Regions from separate parts of the Homo sapiens genome. Here all the other regions are linked to region 2. The links come from fine-mapping of genetic effects on gene expression. A gene starts in region 2. Each other region holds a variant in brackets. All regions are shown on one strand. Distances are from middle to middle.

Region 1 (8,179 bases), 620 kb before region 2:
ACTGCCTCCCTAAAATATGAATGAATATGGACAAAGACTGGAAGATAATGTGAAAATGAAATCATTTTAAGACAGTGGAATTTTTGGTGGTTTTTCTCTCCAAAATTTTCTTTAATACTATTGCTTACTCATCTTTTCAGAAATGATTTTAAATATGTATAAACTTTCCATGCCCTTCCCTGCACTATGTACAGAAATAGAATCTTTAATGTGGATCACAAATAACACAATAATCAGAAATTAGAGATGGTGTTGAATCTCAGCATTGGTAATGAGAATAGGCTTTATGGATAGATATTCCACTTTATCCTGAGATACACAGCTACAGTATACTTTCTGGGAGGAGTATGCCTATAAGCATCCTTGGCTGGAACCTGAATTGGGTTTACAAGCTTACATTTAGATAAAAGCCTTTTTATTTGAGATGAAACCCATACAGGCAGGGTAGAAAGGAGTGGCCTGGGTGAGAATGTCTAATGTTTGGGTTTTCTCAAAGCGTCATTCCTCCTTTCCTCTTATTCTGGCTAGCTTTTCCACAGTGTCATGTAAAGAGGCAGCATTTTCTAGAAGATGCAAGTCATTTGAAGTAGTCATTTGGTTTTCTTCTCATTTCACTTTCAGCCTGCCTTTAAAAATGTAGCTGAGGCCCACCGCTGTGGCTCACACCTGTAATCCCAGCACTTTGGGAGGCTGAGGCGGAAGGAGCACATGAGCCCAGGAGTTCAAGACCAACCTGGGCGACAGAGGGAGAACCTACAAAAAATGAAAAATAAAAAATACAAAAATGGCCGAGTGCAGTGGCTCACGCCTGTAATCGCAGCACTTTGGGAGGCTGAGGTGGGCAGATCACTTGAGGCCAGGAGTTCAAGACCAACCTGGCCAACATGGTGAAACCCCATTTCTACTAAAAATACAAAAATTAGCCGGGCGTGGTGACACGTACCTGTAATCCCAGCTACCTGGAAGGCTGAGACATGAGAATCACTTGAACCCGGGGAGGTTGCAGTGAGCTGAGATCGTGCCACTGCACTCCAGCCTGGGTGACAGAATGAGACTCCATCTCAAAAAATAAAAAAAAATATAAAAAAATTAGCCAGGCGTGGTGGTGCATGCCTGTAATCCCAGCTACTGGGTGGAGGTGAAGAGGTAGGCTGAGGTGGGAGGATCGCTTGAGCCCAAGAGGTTGAGGCTGCAGTAAGCCAGGATCACACCACTGCACTGCATGCAACCTGGATGACAAAGCGAGACCCTGTCTCAGAGAAAAAAAAAAAAGATAAATCTTGTCTTTGTACCTTAGTTTCTCCACATGCAAAACTGGTTCTTTATACCTTTCCGAAGGTTGTGTGGTGAGTTTGCTGCTAAATAGGTTTTTGTGTTTCTTCTACCAAACTACCTTTCCAGGATATCTACAGTTGGTGTTCAAGCCATTGCCTCTGGGCTTCATGTGAGCATTCTTGCCCCGGGCAGGAATTCTGCAGCACAAAACAAAGTACTAAAGATTTTACCCTTTGAGAAGCCTACTCCTTAAGGGAATATTACCTCCCAGGTTTAGCAGTTGGGAAGACATGAAGTACCTGTTCTCATTTCATTCAAATGCCATTCAGTGGTCTGTGAGTCTACATGAAATGACTCCCTGCGGACAGCACCCTCCCCCAGTCTGACCACCTACTACTTCCTCCCAGGTCACTCCCTTGCAGCCACGCAGGCTTCTTTGCTCTTTCCTGAAAATGTCAATTATGATCTGCCTTGGTCTCTGCACTGCCTCTGCCACATAGAGTCATGGTTCATTTTCACTCCTCCTCAAAGTGTTTGCTCATGTGTCATCCATCCCAGTGAGGCCTGTCCTGTGCTCCCCTCCCCCCACATTATTCCTGCTTCCCTTTCTCCATAGCACTTGTCAACTGCTAACACACTATATCCTTTTCCTGTATACTATGCTGATTGTTTACTGTCTCCCTGTTTCCAGGTAGAATGAAAGCTCCATGAGGGCCATGATTTGTACTGATTTTGTTCACTGTTCTATCCCCAGTGGTTAGATTAGGGTCAACCACATAGTAAGTGCTTGGTAAATATTTGTTGAATGAATGAAATGGCTGGGACACTGAGTTTCACCCTCTGCTTGGAATTCTTTTACTTATATGATTGTTACCACTATACCACGTTGGCCAGGGATGCTCTGTTCCCCCTTTAATGAACAAGGACAAAAACATCTTCTCTTGATTCTTTCTTAGCATAACTGAGATAGGCTGGAGAGTTCAAGGAAGTGTTTTGAGTACTAAGAACAATAGAGAAACCAGCATAGAGAATGCAACAAGTATTACAACAGTCTGGCTTAACAGTGTTTCACTCTTGGAGCTGCCATATCTAGCTTGTTCTCATATTTTGCAGGCCCCATCCTAATCTACCCACTTAGGAGAAATCTAATTCCAGCTTCATAGGACTAGTCCTGACCTTGCCTTGATGCCCTGCATGTGGCACCATCTCATAATCTGTTACTAAGGAGCTCCCTTTTGTACATCATGACAGCTGCCAACAAGGCCAAGAGAACCCAGCAAGGCTCATTTTCTAGTTTGAGTGTTGTGTTAGTCTGCATGGGCTACCATAACAAAATACCATAGAATGAGTGGCTTAAAAAGCAAACATTTTCTCACAGTTCTGGAGACTGGAAGTCCAAGATTAAGGTGCCAGTAGGGGTTGGTTTCTGGTGAGGCCTTTCTTCTTGGCTGCAGACGGGCACATTCTAGGTGTGTCTTCATGTGGCCTTTCCTCTGTGCACAGAGAGCATATGTAAGCCCTTGTGTCTTCCTTTAATAAGGATGCCAGCCCTATCAGATTAGGGCCCCACCCTTCTGACCTCATTTAACCATATTACATCCTTAGGGCACTATCTCCAAATGCAGTCACTTTAGGGATTAGGGCTCCAGTATAGGAATTTAGGGCCAGGTATGGCAGCCCACACCTGCAATCTCAGAGCTTTGAGAGGCCAAAGTGGGAGGATCGCTTGAGCCCAGGAGTTTGAAACCAGCCTGGGCATCATAGCAAGACCCCCTGTCTCTACAAAAGCTGGCAGCCTGAGTATTAAGATCTTATCTCTACAAAGAAAAAAAGAAAATTAACCAGACAGGGTGGTATGTACCTGTAGTCCAAGCTACTTGGGAGGCTGAAGTGGGAGGATCACTAGAGCCTGGGTAATTGAGGCTGCAGTGAGCCATGATTGTGCCACTGCACTCTAGCCTGAGTGACAGAGAGAGGCCTTGTCTCAAAAAGAAAGAGAGAAAGAGAGAAGAGAGAGAAAGAGAAAGAAAGAAAGAATGAATGAGTTAGCTGGGTGTGCTGATGTGTCTGTAGTCCTAGCTACTTGGGGCTGAGGTAGGAGAATTGCTTGAGCCCAAGAGTTCAGGGCTGCAATGAGCTATGTTTGTGCCACTGTACTCCAGCCTGGATGACAGAGCAGCAAGACCCTGTCTCTAAAAACAAAACAAAACTAAGAATTTTAGGATGACACAACTCAGTCCATAGCAAGTGATACCTCTTTGACTGGAACAAATAACCTTATGCTTCAGGTGCAATATCTCACACAGACACTATGGCCTTCGTTCACTTTTTAAACTAGCATTTATTGAAGACAAAACTATGTGCCAAGTTTTATGCCAGCTGCAGGGGATATCCCGTACCCTCCACCAGTAGAGGAGACAGAGCCAGTTTCAGAGAAGGGTGGTGAGTACCTGGGGATGGATGGATGTGTCAGGAAAAGTTTCATTGAGAAGGTCGCATATGGCCAGGCGTGGTGGCTCACGCATGTAATCCCAGTACTTTGAGAGGCTGAGGTGGATCACTTGAGCCAAGGAGTTTGAGACCAGCATGGGCAACATAGTGAGACCCCATCTCTATTTTAACAAAAAGTAAAAGAAAAAGAGAAGGTCGCATATGGTCTTTCAGGTCTGTGAAGAAGTGTGTGCATAGTTTACCACACAACAGCATATGAGTCATGTCACCATCATTATTGTCATCACCCATCTTTATAGTAACAAGAAGGTAGTTCCTTCACACTCTAACCTAAGCCCTTTTTCTTCATCTTCACCTGGCTTTGGTTCTTTTGCTACAGTTACTCCAGCCTCTCTCCCCAGCCTTTATCTTCCACATTTTCTGCTGTGTTGTTTCAACAGCCAGTGACTTTTCTGTTCATACTCTATTGATGATGAAGTAAAAATTGATTTTGATTTGTTTCTGATTTCTTTTCCTTAGTAAGTTTGAGTTGAACCTTTAGTTCTCTCTCCTCATCTCCTCGCTTTCTACAAAGGCAATTCCTGGTGTTAAGTGAAAGCTGTTCCTGTTAGAGCCTACTGTTTGCCATTAATAAGTGATAAGGGAGGTTGTCAGCCAGCATTAATACTCTGTTTATGAAATTACAGTTACTGATGCAGTATTTTGTGAAGTTCTTAAGATATAAACGGCACAAGTGATTTGATAAGTTATAGCTCCAGAGACTTCCTTACATAGTATGCCAGTATTTCTTTTTCCCCTCTCAACGGGACACACATAACATTAAATTAAGTTTGTCTTGGTTGCCATTTACTTTAAACGGATCTGGTGCCTGTGCTCAGATATGTTTATGAGAGTATAATTGACTTCTCTGAAAGCATTGAGATTGAGGGAGTAGTTATATCTTACCTTAGTCTCATTGATGATTCATGGAATTGAAATAATTAAAAAGTACTTATTACATGCCTGATTGCTTCATGACCCTTTGATAAACTACCAACACTCATATCAAATGTCTCCTGATTTAAAAAAAAAA[A/T]TTTTTTTTATACATATATAGACAAGTTCTCACTGTGTCACCGAGGCTGGAGTATGGTGGCTTTCACAGGCATGATCATAGCTCACTGCAGCCTCGCCCTCCTGGGCTCAAGGGATCCTCCTGCCTCAGCTTCTCGAGTAGCTGGGACCACAGGCACCTGCGTCTAGCTAAATGCCTCTTGATTTTAATGGCATGTCTTGTCTTCATAGCATATTCCACAAAAAACTCTAAAGTCTGATAGAAATGATCCTTCTCTTTCCTGTAGTTTTTTTTTGTTTGTTTTGTTTTGAGAAAGGGTCTCACTCTGGTTGCCCAGGCCGGAGTGCAGTGATGCGATCTCGGCTCACTACTACAGCCTCTGCCTCCTGGGTTCAAGTGATCCTCCCACCTCCTGAGTACCTGAGACTCCAGGTGTGCACCACCATGCCCAGCTAATTTTTGTATTTTAGTAGAGACGGGGTTTTGCCATGTTGGCCAGGCTGGTCATGAACTCCTGACCTCAAGTGATCCTCCCGCCTCAGCCTCCCAAGGTGCTGGCGTTACAGGCATGAGCCGTAGCACCCAGCCAACATTTTACTCTTTATACGTGTGTTCAGCTACAAAACTTTCTTCCCTACCAACCCTCCCAAGTCTAAGTAAAATTGATCTCGGAGTCACTTGACCTATTTATCTGGTATTATCCTGGTACGCTGCTAGAGGTATATATACAGGGTCATGTGTCACTTAAGGATGAGAATGTGTTCTGAGAAACATGTCATCATTGAGTGTACTTACACAAACCCAGATGGCATAGCCCACTACGCACCTAGGCTGTGTGGTATGGCCTGTTGCTCCTAAGCTACAAACCTGTACAGCACTGATTCAACTTTAGGCAATTGTAACACAGTGGTATTTGTGGATCTAAACATAGAAAAGGTACAGTAAAAATACAGTATAAAAAATGTTGCATCTGTATAGAACAACTCCATTATAATCTTATGGGACCCCTGTTGTATATGTGGTTTATTGTTGACTGCATGTTGTTCTGCGGTGCATGACTGTACTAGTTTTAAAAGCAGAACTGTCTCTATAATCCACTTCTTAGCTTCAGGTACTATTTCCTAATATCAGACACGTGGCACTGACTTTTCTTCTTAACTCCAGACTTATGTATCCAAGTGCCTATTTGACATCTGCATTTGGATATTGGATCAGCATCACAAATTTAATACAAGGACCTAACTCTTGATTCTCTCCACAACGCCAAACCTGTTTTTCCTCTAATTGTCCCCACCTCAGTCAACTATATTATCCACCTAGCTGCCTAAGCCAGAAACCTAGGAATTATCCCAGATTATTATTCTTTTTTTTGTTTTGTTTTGTTTTTTGTTTTTGACTCACTCACTCTGCTCAGGCTGGAGTGCAGTAGCGTGATCTCTGCTCACTGCAACCTCCACCTCCCGGGTTCAAGTGATTCTCCTGCCTCAGCCTCCCTAGGTGCTGGGATCACAGGCATGCGCCACCACGCCCAGCTAATTTTTGTATTATAGAGATGGGGTTTCACCATGTTGGCCAGGCTGGTCTTGAACTCCTGGCCTCAAGTGATCCGCCTGCCTTGGCCTCTCAAAGTGCTGGAATTACAGGTGTGAGCCACTGCACCCAGCTCAGATTCTTCTTTATAATGCCTGCCTCATGTAGTCCCTCAGCAGGAGCTATTGATTCTGAACCCTTCCCATCCCCCGTGGTTCCCTTGCTCTCCTGTCGTTCACACCACCCTGTCTCACCTGCATCACGCAGTAGCCACCAGACTGATCTGTTTCACTGCCTGTGCAGTTCTTCTCTACACTGCCGGCAGAGTGGTCTCTTTGAAATGCAGATCTGATTGTTGCACTCACCTGCCTAATCCCCTCCAGTAAAACCCAGACTTCTTCTCCTGGCCTACAAGATCCTGTTTGGCTTGGCCTCTGCCTGCTCTCCAGCCTGTTTCTTACCCTCTTCGCCTAGTTTGCTGCATGCCTGCCACATGGCCTGCCTTCTGCTGCTGCTTGGATAGGAGAGGCTCAGTCTCTCCTTAGGGCCTTTGTGCTTGCAGTTCTTGGAAATGCTTGGATGTCAGAAGGTTACATGGCTGTCCCGTTGGTGTCATTCAGGTCTCACTCAGCGCAGACAGGCCTTCCCTCGCTGCGCAGTTAGTCACATGCCTCTCGTTGCTTTCTTAATATTTTACTTTAAACTTTTTTTCTATTACATACCTTATCCGACATGATTTTGTTTGTGTGTTTTACAGGAGAGGGGTTATATCTGTCTCGTTCATGACTGAGTTCTCAGTGCCTGAACAGTTCCTGACATCCAGTAGACCCTTTATATCTATTTGTTGAATAAGTGACTGCTTTTCCCGTTGTGCATGGGCCAGTGCCAGGGGTCGAGTTGTAGTGAACTGAGAGTACATGGACAGTGCTGAATGGGGAAATGAAAGTTATCAAAAGCCTCTGGTGCCTTGCTTATTCATAGCAGATTTGTTCATAATAACAAAAGCTGGAAAGAACCCAAATGCCCATCAACACATGAATGAATAAACTGTGGCTATGATTTGGCTATAAAAAGAATGATACATGGTGGAATATGGATGAATCTTGAAAGCATTATGCTGCATGAAAGGAAGCCTTACACAGAAGAGCACATACTTAGGATTCCATTGATATGAAATTCTAGGAAGGGCATTTAATTTATAGTAAGAGAAAAGTGGCTAACCAGAACCCAGGATGGGAGAGGGTTGACTGGGATGGAACACAGAACTTTTAGGGTAATGGAAATGTTCTGTATCTTAAATATGGTGGTGATTACACAGGTATAAATTTGTCAGAACTTATCAAAATGTACAATTAAATCAGTCCACTTTATTGTATATAAACTATTTCTCAAAGTTGAACTGGTGTCTGACATTTAAATGTACTTTGGATTTCTTTTGTTTACCTACCCACTTCTTGGGCAGATGACTTTTCTTTTAATTTCCAGTTCTCCTAGCTACCTGCTGACTCATCCCAGACGTACTTACATTCCTGTTTCTGAATCAGTTCCAACATCCTTTGGGTCTCTTGTCCTCAATCTCTAGTTGGCAAAACATCTTTCTAATTGCAGGGTTATTGGTTATCTTCAGATATGCTATTGGAACTTACTTACCATCAAGGCTAGTTGGGTCTCCACCTCAAAGACTAAGTATCTCCAAACAGATACTTTTACAACGTAACAAGCAAGGAAAAAAAATGTTTGCAGCACATGTAGTTTGACAAGAAGACATAAGAGTATATTTTAAACTCTCAGTTCCTTTCGGTATGATGACTTGTATACTTTGATCAGACTTCCTCTTCAGAAGTTGTAGTCTTTATGTTTAGGATTCCTCCT
Region 2 (8,179 bases):
GCCATTGCACTCCAGCCTGGATGACAGAGTGAAATTTGTCTCAGAAAAAAAAAAAGACTGATTTGGATTCCTTTAGATGGGTCTACAGACTCAGCCACTTCACATATCTATGTTACCTGCCTGGCCCCAACTGTTGAGGTTTGCAAACCCTGCCTCATATTTTTGTACTCCACAAAGAGCAGAAACTCAAAGAAGCTAACCATCTGACCCTGTCTCCAAACCACAGTAGCTCTGAGGCCCCTGTAAGCTGCACAGAACCTAAACATGGACTGCTTAGGCTTATCTTTGGGGATCCAACTTGGTCCTCCCAAGGGGAGGGGCAGACAACCCTGGCCTTCAAGCAGGTCAGGTTCAGCTTCATGGAACCAGTTAATGATGGAAGCCAGAAAGGTTCTGCCTTTGTGTGTCCATGGGCACACACCTCCCTACCTACCCGAGTCTCACCACCCATCACTTCTCTCTTCTCCATACCTCCTTCCTTTCCAGAACCAGAGACTGCCAAGACCACAGCCCTGGTGGTAGGAAGTAGGGCTCAGGAGAAATGCAGAATTGGGGGTTTTGTTAAAGTTACAAAGGGGCCCAACTGGGAGCCAGACCCTCCAGGGAAGTCCAACTGTTAGAATGTCTCTGCGGATTCCTACCATTACCAGGAGAAAGTATGGAGCTAGAACCTCCTCTTCCCCCAAATAAAACCTCAGCCACTTAAATGCTCCTCTCTCCAAATTGAATTTGAAGCATGCATGCTGTGTGTTCTGAGTTTCCAGAAATGCTGTGATATGGATCAGGAACCAAGCTGGCACTGGTGTCCTTAGATCACAGACCCCCACAGGGCCACCATGTTGCAACTCCACAGCCTTCCATGTGAATGGTGCTCTCTGGCATTGTTCAGCATGTGGCTCTGAGGCTCTGCTACCTTTGTGTCTCTAGGTCTTGGTTTCCAAGCATTCTGGCTCTGTAGCTCCCTGGCCTTTTGGACAATATGCTGTGTTCTCAGCTTGTGTCCCCTGCTGCCATCTCTAGATTCCCACTGATTTCTATTTGCTTTTCTCCTACACATATCCAGCGCTGGTTTCTTGCCACTGAGTAGATCATTCCTCACCTATGACCAGGGTCTCCATGCTCACATTTCCTCAGTCGGCCAGCAGCCCCCCAGCTTCATGACCCCCTGTCATGAGGAAGCTGGAGAATCCTCAATCGTCCTCTCTTCCACAGATTCCTGAAGTCTGGCAATAGGGTGGTGCAGTAGCTAATCCAGATTACAGTCTCATCATACCTTATTCTTAGCAATTGACCTCAAGGCCAGGCCCAAGTAGCTTACACTGTTAGTGCTAGAAGAATGCCAACCCCCGCCGGCTGCAGGCTTGGGGTCCTGCTGGAATGTACTCCAGGCGCTGCTGGAGGCAGACTAGGCTCACCGTGCCGATCCTCCAGGGCAGTTTTCCTCTCTTTCAGCTGACATGTTAAGCTAGAAATCCTATACCCTGGGCTACAGGCTGCCTTGTATCCTAATTCTTCCTCTCACCACATCCTGCTCCTGATGAATTATTTCCCTCCCTCAGAGTTGATCATTCCCTCCTCTGTGCTTCCAGGGCACTTCGGCATGCAGCTAGTATTGTACTTATCACATCGCATTACGGTTAGTTGTTTACGTGTCTCTCTGCCCGCTCCACATTTAACTCATTGAGGACAAGGGCTGTCTTACTCGTTTTGGTGTTTTTCCAGACTCAGTACAACAGATATTCAATAAAGAGATATTGAATGACTTGACTATAATTCATTTTTTTTGGCCATGGAATTAATGTCTTTCTTAGGACTAGAGAGAAGCTCAAGGAAAGAATGAACACGGGATTGGAGAAGACCTGCTCCTGGGCTGGAATACTTTCAGGGTTGAGCTCAACAGCTCAGGTCTGGGGATTCTCAAACTTCCATGAATCACAACAACCTGGAGGACTGTTAAATCACAGGTCACCCCCCCATCCCCCAGTTTACGATTCAGTACTTCTGGGGTGGTACCTGGGAATGTGCATTTCTAACCTGTTCCCGGGTGACACTGAAGCTAATGGTCTGGGGACCACACTTTGAGGGCCACCCTTGTCCAAAGATGAGAAGCAGCTGGAATTGGTTAGAGGAGCCATGAGTGTTGAGAAGACACAAAGTTTCAGGGGTGAGTGTGACCCAGGGTTAGCTTCTAGGTCTGCTCAGGCCCTACCCCACACTAAACTCAAATATCACTTCCCCTCAGGAGCTCAGGCGATGGGAGAGGAAGATGAAGATGGAGTAGGTACCACAGGTAATGAAAGAAACAGCACAGCGAACCGCAGATATGCGGGAGGAGAACGGCAGAGCTAGAGAAGTCACGGGAAGGCAGAGTTGAACAAATGACAGTGAGATGAATAATAGATTAGAAGAAATGGGGACTTTGGCAAAGTTCAAATCTTATTTGCTTCTAAGTATAAATGGGTGGACTGGCAGAGAGATAAAACGAAAAAGAAGTCACAAATCAGCTCAGGGCCTCCAGGAAGGCAAGAGAAAGATGGGCCCAGGGCAGAAGGAAGGAACAGCAAAACCCCGACCCACCTCTCAGACTGTGTTCCTGATCAATTCCCTCGGAGGAAGTTAGGAACTGGGCTGAAGAGGGGGACTGAAATTTTATTTTCTCTTCTAGAATCCTCCAGTTATGGCAGATTTATTCAAATATTCAGATTCTTCACTCCCTTGCTATCTCCCTTCCCCAACCCGGGGTCACATCAATTTCTCTAAGGGAAGAATGTAAACTCCATCCTATCTTCTCCTCGGCCAATCCTTTGCCTTTCTGAATAAGCCAAGAGGTTGCCCCACACCTCAAGCTAAGACACATATTTGGAACTCACTCTGCCCCTCTTCACCTTCAAGGAAAACTGGTTTGTTGCTACCTCTGCCCATACCTGAAACCCCCGGGCTCTCCAGCGTTGGAACTGTGGCTGCTCCGAGAGGGGGAGGGCAGACGACATGTAGCAGGTTAAGACCGGGGCAAACCTGCACCTCACACAAGCATGCAATGTCCTGGGGTCAATGGGGTAAAGTTCCAAGCGAGTGGAAGGTAAATCACGACTGTGGCACCGGAGCCGGAACACCCCCGCGAGCAGGCCTTGCTGGGTAGTTCCGTGCGGGGCGGACCGCACAGCCCTATCAGCTTCCTGGCCACAGAAACGCCGCACGCGGCCGCTTCCCCGCCGCCCGAAGCGTCTGCTTTCTCCCCGGGCCAGTTCCGGCCACCACAGCCAACCGCGTGCCCCTCTCCCACACACTGTGGGGGAACAGAAGGGAGCGCGTGGAGCCAGCTGCCAAAGAGGCGAGGAGGAGCCCACGCGGCTCCGGGGAGGAGGGAGCCCGGCTCCCGCAGTCCGCCGGGCAGAGGCGGCCGAGCGCGCCCCCAGCACCTGGCCCGGCGCCGGCCCGTCCGCCCCGCAGCCCCGGCGACGCGAGGGGCCGGCGCTGTCAGACCCGCTCCCAGCCTCGCCGCGAACGTGTCCGTCAGCCCTAACTGTTCCAGACTCTTCTCCCGGCTCCAGAGAGGCCCGAGTCCCCCCCCCTCGGCCTTGGCCCCCACCGCCCTCATCCCGGTACCTGTGTGGCTGGCACGGGACCCTCTCCGTCCCGTCCCCGCCTGCTCCCGCCCCGGCTCACCCCGGCCGCCGGGACCCGACCCCGACCCCGACCCCGACCCCGCCGACCGCACGCGGCCGGACAAAGCGCGCCGCCCCGCGGGCCGGGACAAAGCGGGCGGGGCGCCGGCACCTACCTCGGCGCGGAGCCGCGGCCGGGCGGGCGGGGGCGCGGCGGGCGGGGGCGCACCGGTAGTTGCCGCGCCTGCAGCCCGGCCGCGACGGGCGGTTGCAGGCAGCGGCCGGGCGCACGGCGGGCGGCGGGCGGGCGCTGTCACGGGGCGCAGGCGGCGCGGGGGGCGCGCGGGGCGGGCGGCGGCGGGGCGCGTGGCGGCGGCGCGCGGGCGCGAGCGGCGGGACTGCGGCGCCGCGGAAGGAGGACAATAGCCTCCCCCTGCCGCAGGCCGCCGGCTCCCGCGGGAGGCCCGGGACCATCTGGAGCCGGCGGCCCCGCGGGGCTCTGGGCGGGGCCCGAGTCGCCCCTTCCCCGCCCAGCGCCATGGCAACCGAGGCCCCTCTCGGTGCTCCCCGCCGCTCCCCGCCCGGGGTAGTTGACCTGCCTCGGGGCGAACGCGGCAGCAGCTCCGAGGCCGGCTGCCGACCCCCAGCCACCTTCCGTGCGGGGTCCCCCCAAAACCCCGCCTTCCCGTCCTCGCTGGTCCCTGGGTCCCCCACCACAGCTTACAGGTCTTGATCTCCCCGGTTCGGACACCTCACCTTTGTCCCTATTCTGCTTTTCCTCCAAAATCCGTATCCCCGAGACACGCGATCCTTCCTCTAATGACACTGCCGACGAGGTTTCCCGAGATCCAGCCTCCGTTCCCCTTTCCTCTCCGGGCACCTCCAGTCCGTCTCCGCTAAGCATTCCTCTCACCCGTCCCCTCGCTCTCGCGTCCTCCTTCAGGCAGCTGGGCCGGCTCTCCCTCCCAGAACATCTCCATGGCACAGTGAAGATTCGTCTTCTACAGATCAGATGCTCCAAACAGGCATCTCAGCGCTTCTCAGCTCCTCTCATTTATCAACCAGGAGAATTCCGGCCTAGTCACCGTCTTGAGGGGGGTGGGGGTGGGGGCAGACATTTCTAGGCCTGACACGGCTGGGTTTCTCCTTGGTTTGTTAGCGTCTGAGTGGTCTAAGGTCCAAGGTCCTTAACCAAGGTGAACTGCTGCCTGCTTAGGAGAGGAAGGAATTATGCCCAAATCATGACAAACTCACAGAGTGCCAGGTGGGTGCTAAAAGCGCATCATCTCATGTGACACTCCCACCCCCACTCCAGCTCTGAGAAGTAGGTGCTGTTCTTCCAGATTAGAGAACTCAGCTCAGAGATGAGCCAGTGGTAACAGGGTGAGCTTTGTACAGAGCCGTTAGGTTATGTACTGCCCCTGAAGATGAGGGCCCGTTTCTATCCAGGGAATGCCTGAAATGGTCAAGTAAGGGCACTCAAAGAATGGGCTTTGAGTGAATTATTGGATTTAAGGTTTTATAATAGATTTATGGGTAATTTAGGATTTTGCTCCTTTCTGAAAAGGTATGCATACTGAAACAAATATGTGCAATTGAAGTACTTTCCAGATATGGTTTTGACAACCCTAACTAGTGGTGTCATCTACCTCGCCTTGGTTTTCCTAGTCTATAAAATGGGTTGGGAGGAGGGTTGGGGAGTTCCATTGAAAGATTACTTTGAAGTTCTCTCCTAGCTCTGATATCTGTGCTTCTACCACGAAACTGGAACTGGCTCTCTGGTGTGTACCTCACAGTTAGCTGCATTTGAGGCTATTTATTATTATTATTATTTTGAGACGGAGTCGTGCTCTGTCACCCAGGCTGGAGTACAGTGGCTTGATCTCGGCTCACTGCAACCTCCTCTTCCCGGGTTCAAGCAATTTTCCTGCCTCAGCCTCCCGAGTAGCTGGGATTACAGGTGCATGCCACCATGCCCGACTAATTTTTGTATCTTTAGTAGAGTCAGAGTTTTGCCATGTTGGCCAGGCTGTTCTTGAACTCCTGACCTCAGGTGATCTGCCTGCCTCAGCCTCCCAAAGTGCTGGGATTACAGACGTGAGCTGCCGTGCCAGGCCTGAGGCTATTTATTATTTTTAATAGCCACTCTTTCAGGCAATGGCATTAAAGAAACAAGGGCATAAACTGCAACTCTTCCCAGAGGTAGGATTATGTGTTGGTTGGTTCGGGGGAAGGAGGCACCAACCTGTGCATGACGGTCATCAGGGACACTTGGTCAGGGACATTAAAGCTGATGGGATGAGAATCAGCTGCCCATGGCCAGGCGCAGTGGCTCACCCTTGTAATCCCAGCACTTTGGGAGGCCGAGGCAGGTGGATCGCGAGGTCAGGAGTTCAAGACCAGCCTGGCCAACATGGTGAAACCCCTTCTCTACTAAAAATACACAAATTAGCCAGGCGTGGTGGTGGGCATGAAATCCCAGCTACTCAGGAGGCTGAGGCAGGAGAATCGCTTGAACCCGGGAGGCAGAGGTTGCAGTGAGCTGAGATTGTGCCACTGCACTTCAGCCTGGGCAACAAGAACGAGACTCCATCTCCAAAAAAAAAAAAAAAAATTAGAGAATCAGCTGCCCTGCCAAAGGAACTGGAACCACCAAGCTGCTGCTGCTGTACTGGTTACGGGAACTAAGGGTCTCAATGACAGCCTATAATATCGTGACCCAATTAGAAGTCAAGGGTATTAAGTCTTATGATTAGCAAAATAATATCTTTTATAATTTCCTATTTTCAGCATTTCATAATCCTTCAAGAAGCCTTGTAAGATAAACATTCTCATTCTTATTCTATTGATGAACAGACTGATGTTCAGACACCTAAGTGAATGTACAAGTTCACAGAATTAGTTCATGGTAGAAACTCCAGGTCTTCTGAATCCTAATATGTTCTTTCCTCTCTGCTAGACAGGGAGTATAGCAGAATGGTTAAAAGCATTGATTTTGGAGTCAGACTCCTTGGGTTTAAAACATAGTTCTGCCACCCACTGACTATGTGACCTTGGGCAAGTTACCTCCCTAGGATTCAGTTTCCTTACATGTAAAATGGCACCATAATGTGGGGAACATCAAATGAATTATTGCAGGTAAATGAATTATATGCAGCACATAGTAAGCACTTAATCAGTATCAGCCGTTATGATTTTACCGTATTATTTCCCATACTGTTTCCCGATTTGGAGAGGAAGCACATTGAATAAAGAGAACACTGAGATCACCTATCTCAGCTCTGTGACTGGGTTGCTTTGGAAACTTGTTATTTTGCTCTGTAGTGAACCAGTACAGTCAATGATGAAGAAAATATCTGGTTCCTTCTTATTTGAGTTGCAAAAGCGAATGGAATGATATCCACCAAGTTTGTTGAGCTTCTCAGTGAATCCACATTTGCTGCTTACATTACCAAGATTCATGGAAAGGTTTTGGCTCTGCCCACCAAACATACATACATAGCCGAATTCTCAGTTCTTGTTTCAATACCAGGGAAGAGGTGTCCCTCTTTTCACCTAAGATGGATTCTTCTGGCTCCTATGCTAAGTCTCATCCCCTTCTGCAGCCTCACGGCCCTCACTGCTGTCTCTCAGCTGGTTCCTTCCCATCAGCATTTAAACATGCTCAAGCATTTGCCAGCTTAAAAAATAATCAAGAAGCCCCGACTTCCCTCCATGCATTCCCCTTGCTCTTTATGTTCACAGTCTTCCTGAGTCATTTGCACTCATTGGCTTCACTTCCTCGCCCCTGCTCAATCAAATATTTATGCAAAAACTATATGGCTAATTATATACCAGGCACTGTGCTGGGATCTGGGGATATAATGATGAGTAAAATGGATACTGTCTGTTTTCTCTTGGAAGAGCCTGTGGTGGGATTGACAGACATTAATAAAATAACCCATCAGATATATAACCACAAAGTATAATGAGTGTTATGAATGAAAAGTTCAGGATGTTAAGAGAGAACTGAACAGAGTCATAACCTCAGATCACCTGAGCTGAGATCTGAAATATGAGAAGCATTAACCAGACAGAGTGGGGAATAATAATAGCTGTTACTAACATTAACGTGGAACTGTATTTCTAATACTTTACACATAACATTTCATTTAATCCTTTATAACAACTCCAAGAGGTAAGTATTAACCCCATTTCACAGATGAGGAAATGGAGACATTGAGAGATTAAGTACCTTACTCAGGGTCATCAAACCAGGCAAGGGTAGAGCTGGGATTTTAACCCAATCTGACCCTTGAACCCATGTTCTTAGCCACAGAGCATATGGCTAACAGGCCTGATGTTGCAGGACACATGGTGTACATAGGAAATGGAGAAAAGAGGCCGGGTGCAGTGGCTCACGACTTTGTAATCCCAGCACTTTGGGAGGCCAAAGTAAGCGGATCACAAGGTCAGGAGATTGAGACCATCCTGGCTAACACAGTGAAACCCCTTTTCTACTAAAAATACAAAAAAATTAGCTGGGCGTGGTGGCATGCGCCTGTAATCCCAGCTACTCGGGAGGCTGAGGCAGG
Region 3 (8,179 bases), 27 kb before region 2:
GTGTGGAAGGCAAATTGGAAGAGCCACAGAGTTAACAAGCCCAGAAGCAGCCCTCAACCAGTGACAGACAGGGAGCTGATGGATAAACACACAGCATCCTTGTGCCGTGGCTGTGAGAGTGCTGTGTTCTGTGTTCCATCTACACCCCCGCAGAATGCCCCATGAGGGTTGGGCTCCTGATGCCCATGGGGGTAACTGGCATGACTTCTGTCCCTTCTCATGGCTCCACCCCCCTACTGATCATTCCCGGGGACACCTCCCTAGAATCACTGTTTCAGGGTCTGCTTCTAGGGGAACACAAACCCAGACACTGCCTTCAGGCCATTTTGCAGGTGGCTGTGGCTGTCAGGATGGAGAGCATCAAAGGCTAGCACTGCCTGGGTAGCTTCACAACCCTGAGCACAATCAACACTTGGAAGCACACGCATGTGGTGGTCAGGACTTCCCGGGGCTTCTCTCCCACCTCTTCTTCCATGGGGCCCTGCACACATTCTGTGCTGCTGCTGGACTCACTCACCCCCTTGCTCCCAAACAGGCACTGCCTACCACTGGTTTTCTGTTTGGTTTTCTCTACCTGGAAACATCTTTTCCTCCATATCTCCACTTGTCCAAATTCTACTCATCCTCCATGGACTGCCCTGGATGTTGCTGCTTCTAGAATTTCCATATCTCCTCTCTCCTTATTCCCCAGGCTTCAACGGGGCCACTCTCACAGCACTCATCAGATTCTGCTCTGGATTCGATTTAGCTACCTGCATATATGCCTCATATCCTGGCTACAGTGTTGTTCCTTCAGGGTGGAGCCTACCATGGGATCCCTTTCGGACCCCACGCAGGGCCTAATACAATGCTTTGGATATAGTAGCACCAAGTAAATATTTGCTGAACGAATGGAAACACTTGAAAGCACACTGGTCTCCTTTTGTCCCAACCATCATGCCCTTGAGAAAAGGAAAGTGTCTTTTCGTAGACCCTGCAGTGCCTCGCAGACTGTTGAGCACGTACCATGTTCTGTAGGGATACTTGCTGAGCAGATATAAAGCTTTATCTGTCCTTGACTCTTGAGGAACAGCTGGGTGGGAGACCAAGAACCAGGGACGGCAAGACTCGAAAATAAGGATTGGCAGACTACATACAGCCCACGGGGTAATCTGGCCCACTGCCTGTTTTTACAAATAAAGTTTTATTGGGAAACAGCCATGTTCATTCATTCACTTATTCTCTGAGGCTGCTTTTGCACTACAACGACAGAGATGAGTAGTTGTAGTAGAAACTGTTTGGACTGCAAAGCCTCAGATATTGACCATCCAGCCCAAGCCCTTTCCAGACAAGGTTTGCAGAGCCTGCTGAAGAGCACCATCCTGCTTTGAACTCAGGAACAGTTATGGCGTTAAATCCAGGCTGCAGTTTCGCTACCTGCTAATTTGTACTTTATCAAGGTTCTGGACTCACTGTCCCACTCTTTGTCTCCAACAAAGACGTTTGTTTCCCAGAGGCCATAACTTTCCACCATGGAGCTGTGGCACCAGAACCCCACAATCTCTAACCATGACAAAAACCACGTCCTGGAGCCAGGCCCTCCCCCGTACCATGGGGGACTCTGCCCAGAGGCAGCCCCCACAGCACTGCTCACCTTGTCCACCTTGTCCAGCCAGTCTTTGTTGGCAGCCAGCTCGGCCATGAATGCCTGGTGCTTCTGCCACTTAGTATGCAGGTTGCGGGCCTCGTCATAGGACACGTCCTGGGCTGTCAGCATCTTCTCGTCGATCCAGAGCTTCAGCTGGACCAAACATAAAACAGGGACATTTCCAAGGGAGGGGAGAGGGGGGCATAAAAGCAGGGCCACAGTGAGCCAGGAGAAGTGGGCGCCTTGGGAAGAAGCCATGAAGGGGCTCACAGTCTCCGGTACCTTGTGCTGGACTTATTCTAGGCTCAAGGTGAGAAAGGGATGGCTAGGGAATATCCCGGGGCCCCAGGGAGCCTCACCTCGTGACAATCTTGCAGGAAATGCTGCTGCTCCCGGTTGTCCCGAAGACGGCCCAGAAATTGCTGCGCTGCGTCTTGATTCTTCTTGTGCCTGGAACGACACCCTCTTGTGAAACTCTGGAATTTGCTGTGAAAGGATTGTGACCCTTTGGCTAACCTAGGGGCCTCCATTTCTTCTAGGGGAATAACGCCTTCCGGGAGCACAATGAGGCTACCCAGGAATCCTGACTTCCTTTTAGCCCTGGTTGGGGGTGGAATCTCCCAGCCCTCTCCAACCACTTAGTTCTTCCCCTCTACTTCTCTGTCAGCTCCTGCCCCATCTGTGGGTTTCCTGTGCCACGTTTATCTTTGAGGTCACCCTGTTTCTCCGATTCCCCCCTGGGAACCCTAATTCATGGACTGTCCTCATCAGACCTCCTCTCAATGGAGTCTGCCTTTTCCCGAATCTTGTCGGCGTGGATGTTGCCTTCAGATACCAGCTGGCGGCCAGCCTCCAGGAGCCCGTGGATCCGTTCCCCATTGGCGTCCATGGTGCTCATGAAGTCCTCCAGTTTTTTAATGGCAGCATCAGCAGCCTGGAGTGTCCCTGGCATCTCCGTGTGAGACAGAACATATTCCTGTGTGGGAGGGATGACATTCAGCTCATTTTCCCCAGCACAATTCACCCCCCTAGGAGGGACCCACCCAGGGGCAAATCTGAGAGGTAGGGACCAACAAGCAGACAGGGAGGGTAGCCCAGAGAGCTCTGAAGACAGGGAGGCTGCCAGCCAGCATGGGAGCCTCAGAAAGTCACAGGGAAGCTGGGTGGGAAGGACCTTCCATTCCCCAGCCCAAATCCTGTTCTATCTCACTTCTAGCTCCTGATTCCATTTAACAGTTACATGACAAACTGGGCTTTCTATTTCTTCTAAAGTCAGTTTTAGTAAATTATATTCACGTCTTTTTCATTCTCATTTTTCCTTCTTTTTTCTTTTTCTTTTTTTTGAGAGAGGGTTTCATTCTGTGGCCCAGGTTGGAGTGCAGTGGCATATCATAGCTCACTGCAGCCTCAAACTCCTGGCTCCAGTGATCCACCAGCCTCAGCCTCCCCAGTAGCTGGAGCTACAGGCATGCACCACCATGTCCAGTTAATTTTTTTTTTTCATAGAGATGGGGGTCTCACTATGTTGCCCAGGCTGGTCTCAAACTCCTGAGCTCAAGTTATTCTCCTGCCTCGGCCTCCCAAAATACTGGGAGTACAAGTGTGAGCCATCCTGTCTGGCTCCCATTTTTCTTTTTAAAAAATTCTTCTATTTTCTTAAAAAAATTTTTTTGTAGAGACAAGGTCTTGCCATGTTGCCCAGGTTGGTCTGGATATTCTCAGCCTCAAGTGATCCTCCTACTTTGGCCTCCCAAAGTGCTGGAATTTCAGGTGTGAACCACTGCGCTGCCCCATTTTGCTAGCATGTCCTTCCTGCCCATCCTGCTCCTTCACATTTCCCCGGGTCCCTACTTTGCTCTTCCTCCTGCTTGGGACTTTGCCCTGGACTTTCACCTGGCTGCTGAGCACGCCCTCAGCCTGACGAGCATCCCGCAGGAATCCCTGGAAGCCGTGGGCCTGGGCCAGGCGACCTTGCCGGCTCTCCCACATTCGGCCCAGCTCCTCCCAGCCAGTTCCCAGGGCCTCCAGTCGCTGTCGTAGGAAGAGGCACTGGGGGTCAGCCTGGTCCCGGGTCACCTCCTCGCCCAGGGCTCGCAGCCGGCTATACTCGCTCTGGGCCCGCTCCACCTCTCCCCGCAGGGCTGCATGTTGGGCCAGGAGGGCCTCTGCCTCAGGCAGGGTGGCCGGCCCTTCTTCAGAGGCCACAGCAGTCTGAGTGCGGCCTAGCCAGGCCTGGAAGTCATCCAAGCTGCGCAAGAAGTCCTGCAGCCGCCGCGCCTCCCCCAGCGACTCTTCTCGACGCCGCATGGTGGCCCTGAGGTCCTCCCAGCCGGTCTGCACCTCTCTCAGCCGGGCGTTGATGGCCACTGCCTGAGCGGGATGGCCGGCAGCCAGGGCATTTGCCTCTCGAGTCAGTTCGCCCACCCGGGCGGCGATGGCCTCCAGGTCCCGCTCCGTGCCGGCCAGCTTGCGCTGCAGGGCCAGCACCCCAGCCAGATCGTTGCCTAGGCCCTGGGTGGACTCGATGACTTTGGTCTTCTCTCTCATCCAGGCCTGGGTCTCCGTGCACTCTAAGTGGTAGTTCTGGATGCTCAGGGCTGAGGTGAGAGCTGCCTTCTTGCCGTCTGCCAGACGCCGAAACTGCTGCCACCTGAGAGCAGGGGGAAGGTTCAGCTTCCTGCCCTGGCCAGGCCTGTTTGGAAGCTTCTTCCCTGCTTCTCTCTCTCTTGGTAGCTCCCCTTCACTCCTCCCTTTCTGGCCAGCAGCCGCTTCAGACCACCTTGACCCCCTCTCTCATCTCTTTCATCCTTTTTCCTTCCCCAACATATTCCAGACTGGTTTGCTTCCTCCTTTGTAGCCACCCTTCCAGGCCCTACAAAACCTGCCTCTCACTGCCATCCCCATTGCTTCATTTTTCTGTCAGTTTCC[T/C]GGTCCTGCCCTCCCAAACCCACCTGTGGTTGAGCTGCTCCTGGGTGTTGACAATGCGGTCTTTGCCTGGGGGGTTGGCCTTCAGTAACTGCTCGGCAATGTCATTCACCGCGGTGATTTGTGCTGCAAGGGTGTTCATTTCAGGCTCCAGGGTCTCGAACCTGAGAGGGTGGAAGAGCCAGGCGTGAATTGTGGGAGGCAGCGATGTGCCCAGTCCACCTAAGTCCACCTCTCTTAAACACCCAGGAGGGTGTCTCCTTCACCAGGAGGCTTATCTGCAGGAGTCTCTCTGCCTCTCAGCCTATGAGGTTCATAGTATCTGTGCATCAAGGAAGGAACCCACAACTCCCCCAAAACAAGCAGAATAACTGTCATCGCTAGAAATGCTCAAAAGATGGTGAAAGGTAAAGGTCAGGAACAGACACACAAGTCAAACTAGACCCTGGCATGGGGCCAACCCTTTATCAGAGCTGCTCAGCCTCCTGGGACTTCCCCCTTAGCTGCCTATCTGGGTCTCATCCCACTAATATGTGTTAGAAAATGAAGTAATAACCAAAAATATTTGTCTGAGTGATGAAAATGTGAAGGATAACTTCTTCCAGGGACATTTTATGTTTTGTTTTTGAGATGGAGTCTCGCTCTGTCACCCAGGCTGGAGTGTAGTGGTGCAATCTCGACTCACTGCAACCTCCGCCTCCCGGGTTCAAGCAATTTTCTGCCTCCGCTTCCCGAATAGCTGGGATTACAGGTGCCCGCCACCAAGCCTAGCTAATTTTTGTATTTTTGGTGGAGACGGGTGTTTCACTATCTTGGCCAGGCTGGTCTTGAACTCCTGACCTCATGCTCCACCCGCCTTGGCCTCCCAAAGTGCTGGGATTACAGGCGTGAGCCACCTCGCCTGGCCGACATTTGATGTTCTAATAGGGCAGGGTCTGCAAATGTTTTCTGTGAAGGGCTTGATGGTAAATATTATAGGCTTCGTGAGCCATGCAGCTGCTGCGGCAACTATTCAGCCCTGCTGCTGTAGCCTGAAAGCAGCCACGGGCAATACGCAAAAGGGCGAGTGTAGCTCTGTTCCAGTAAAACTTTATTTACAGACCGGGCATGGTGGCTCACGCCTGTAATCCCAGCACTTTGGGAGGCTGAGATGGGTGGATCACAAGGTCAGGAGATCGAGACCATCCTGGCTAACACGGTGAAACCTCGTCTCTACTAAAAATACAAAAAATTAGCCAGGTGTGGTGGCGGGTGCCTGTAGTCCCAGCTACTTGGGAGGCTGAGGCAGGAGAATGGCGTGAACCCGGGCGGCGGAGCTTGCAGTGAGCCAAGATTGTGCCACTGCACTCCAGCCTGGGGGACAGAGCAAGACTCCGTCTCAAAAAAAAAAAAAAAAAAAAAAACCAAAAAAAACTTTATTTACAGAAACAGGCAGCAGGCTGGATTTGGCCCAAGGGTTGCAGTTTGTTAACCTCTACATTAGGATACCTTGAAAACTAAAAAAAATCTTTAATTACATTTTTATTTTTATTTATTTTTTTGAGACAGGGTCTTACTCTGTCACCCAGGTTGGAGTGCAGTGGCACGATCTCAGCTCACTGCAGCCTCGACCTCTGGGCTCAAGCAATCCTCCTGCCTCAGCCTCCCCAGTAGCTGGGACTACAGGCGCCTGCCACCATGCCTGGCTAATTAAAAAAAAAATTTTGTAGAGGTGGAGTCTCACTATGTTGCCCAGGCTGGTTATGAACTCTTGGAATCAAGTGATACTCCTGCCTTGGCCTCCCAAAGTGCTGGGATTACAGGTGTGAGCCACCAGGCCTGACCTAATTATATTTTTTTAAACACCAGGAAATTTGATTACACATTGATCATAGATCATATCAAGAAATTCCTGACCCGGCGCAGTGGCTCATGCCTGTAATCCCAGTACTTTGGGAGGCCAAGCCGGGTGGATCACGAGGTCAGGAGATCGAGACCATCCTCGCTAACATGGTGAAACCCTGTCTCTACTAATAAAAAAATACAAAAAATTAGCTGGGCATGGTGGTGGGTGCCTGTAGTCCCAGCTACTTGGGAGGCTGAGGCAGGAGAATCGCTGGAACCCGGGAGGCAGAGCATGCAGTGAGCCGAGATCGCACCACTGCGCTCCAGCCTGGGTGACAGAGTGAGACTCCATCTCAAAAAAAAAAGAAATTCCTAATTTTGTTCTATGTGATAATGGTATTGTGGTTCTATAAAAAAATTTTTAAGATTTATTATTGAATAAATGATTTGAAGATTTATTCTGTAAATAAAACTATTTTAGTGTCTCTGTCTAAAAGGTTTATAACTTCAAAGCCTCAGCTATTTTAAGTCCACACAGACAATTTGAAAATAATATATTGTAGGTAAGAATGCTTCCTCGTATTTCTTTTCTTTTTTTTTTTTTTTTTTTTGAGACAGTCTCGCTCTGTCGCCAAGGCTGGAGAGCAGTGGCACGATCTCGGCTCACTGCAAGCTCCGCCTCCCAGGTTCATGCCAGTCTCCTGCCTCAGCCTCCCGAGTAGCTGGGACTACAGGCGCCCCCCACTGTGCCCGGCTAATTTTTTGTATTTTTAGTTGAGACAGCGTTTCACCATGTTAGCCAGGATGGTCTCGACCTCCTGACCTCGTGATCCGCCTGCCTCGGCCTCCCAAAGTGCTGGGATTACAGGTGTGAGCCACCGTGCCCGGCCGCTTCCTTGTATTTCTTAAAGGGCACACCCTGAAGAAGGTAGGAGGGATGTGCTAATCTTGGGGATTTGCTTTTTAAAAGGGCAGAGAACCAAATAGAGCAAGATGTTGGCAATGACTGAATCTGGGTGACGGGTGTAGAGGGGTTTGTGGTGAAATGTCTCTACTTGTGAGTATGGTTAACATTTTTTGTTAAAACTAGAAATGGACAACCATTAAGACTCAAAGGGGTGAGGCAGGAAGTTTATGGAGGGACTCACCACCCACATCCTGGCCCCCCCACCCCCACCTCCCAAGGCTGGTCCCACTAGGAGCCTGAGGGGCCTACCTCTGCTGCACGACCTCCAGGTCCTCCAGGCGTTCAGGCAGGGCCAGCCCGTTGAGCCACTGCTCCTTCTCCTCCACCCAGAGTCCACAGGCCCCGGCCTCGCTGAGCATGGTGTAGAGCGCCAGGGCTGCCTCCAAGGCCCGCGCTCGCTCGCCTGCCCGGGCCTGCAGCTCCTCGTAGTGCCGCTCCAGGGTGGGCACCCGGCTCTGCACCTCGGGCGTGCGGCTCAGTGTGGGGGGCAGGGCTGCTGCCTGTTCCCTCAAGGCGTCCAGGGTTGGCCGGTGGCTTCGAATCTCCTCCTCCAGGGCCCGATGCTGCCTGGCTAGAGCCTGCGTGGAGAACTCGTCGTGCCCCAGCTCGGGGCTGGACACCAGGCGCAGTGCGTCAACCAACCAGGCCTCCATGTCGTTTGCATCGGCCTGGAACTGGTAGAGGCTGGCGGCTTGGGCCAGCCGCTGGGCACGCTCCTCGGCCAGGGCCTCTAGCCGCTCCCACTGGGCTTGGAGTTCAGCTGCACGGGCAGAGGCCTGGCTTGCCCCAGGGTGACCCTCGGCCACCAACTGCTGGCCCTGCTCCAGGGTGAGCTT

Which allele goes with the higher level. Alleles are on the strand shown, and positions count from the first base shown. SD is a standard deviation of normalised expression in the study named.
As copies of A replace T in region 1, the expression in lymphoblastoid cells of the gene that starts at base 4,837 in region 2 goes down (large effect, 1.6 SD a copy in GEUVADIS).
With allele T in place of C in region 3, the expression in T cells of the gene that starts at base 4,837 in region 2 is higher (large effect, 0.80 SD a copy in GENCORD).

What was found.
Region 1: its variant is fine-mapped to the expression of SPTBN2 in lymphoblastoid cells (GEUVADIS, PIP 0.95).
Region 3: its variant is fine-mapped to the expression of SPTBN2 in T cells (GENCORD, PIP 0.95).

The regions. Positions count from the first base shown.
Region 1 is chr11:66,105,504-66,113,682 of GRCh38, forward strand. All of the region lies in intron 1 of PACS1 (phosphofurin acidic cluster sorting protein 1), which reads left to right. Among named protein-coding and RNA genes, the nearest start is that of PACS1, 39 kb to the left of the region's middle. RefSeq lists enhancers at 1,457-2,300, 7,827-7,916. The variant A/T (reference allele first, on the strand shown) is at 4,799.
Region 2 is chr11:66,724,380-66,732,558 of GRCh38, forward strand. SPTBN2 (spectrin beta, non-erythrocytic 2) reads right to left here and starts at 4,837. Exons shown (of 38, transcript NM_006946.4): 1 at 4,362-4,837.
Region 3 is chr11:66,697,006-66,705,184 of GRCh38, forward strand. It overlaps SPTBN2 (spectrin beta, non-erythrocytic 2), which reads right to left. Exons shown (of 38, transcript NM_006946.4): 15 at 7,593-8,179; 16 at 4,579-4,716; 17 at 3,521-4,277; 18 at 2,401-2,603; 19 at 1,987-2,077; 20 at 1,634-1,780. Among named protein-coding and RNA genes, the nearest start is that of RBM4B, 23 kb to the left of the region's middle. The variant T/C (reference allele first, on the strand shown) is at 4,556.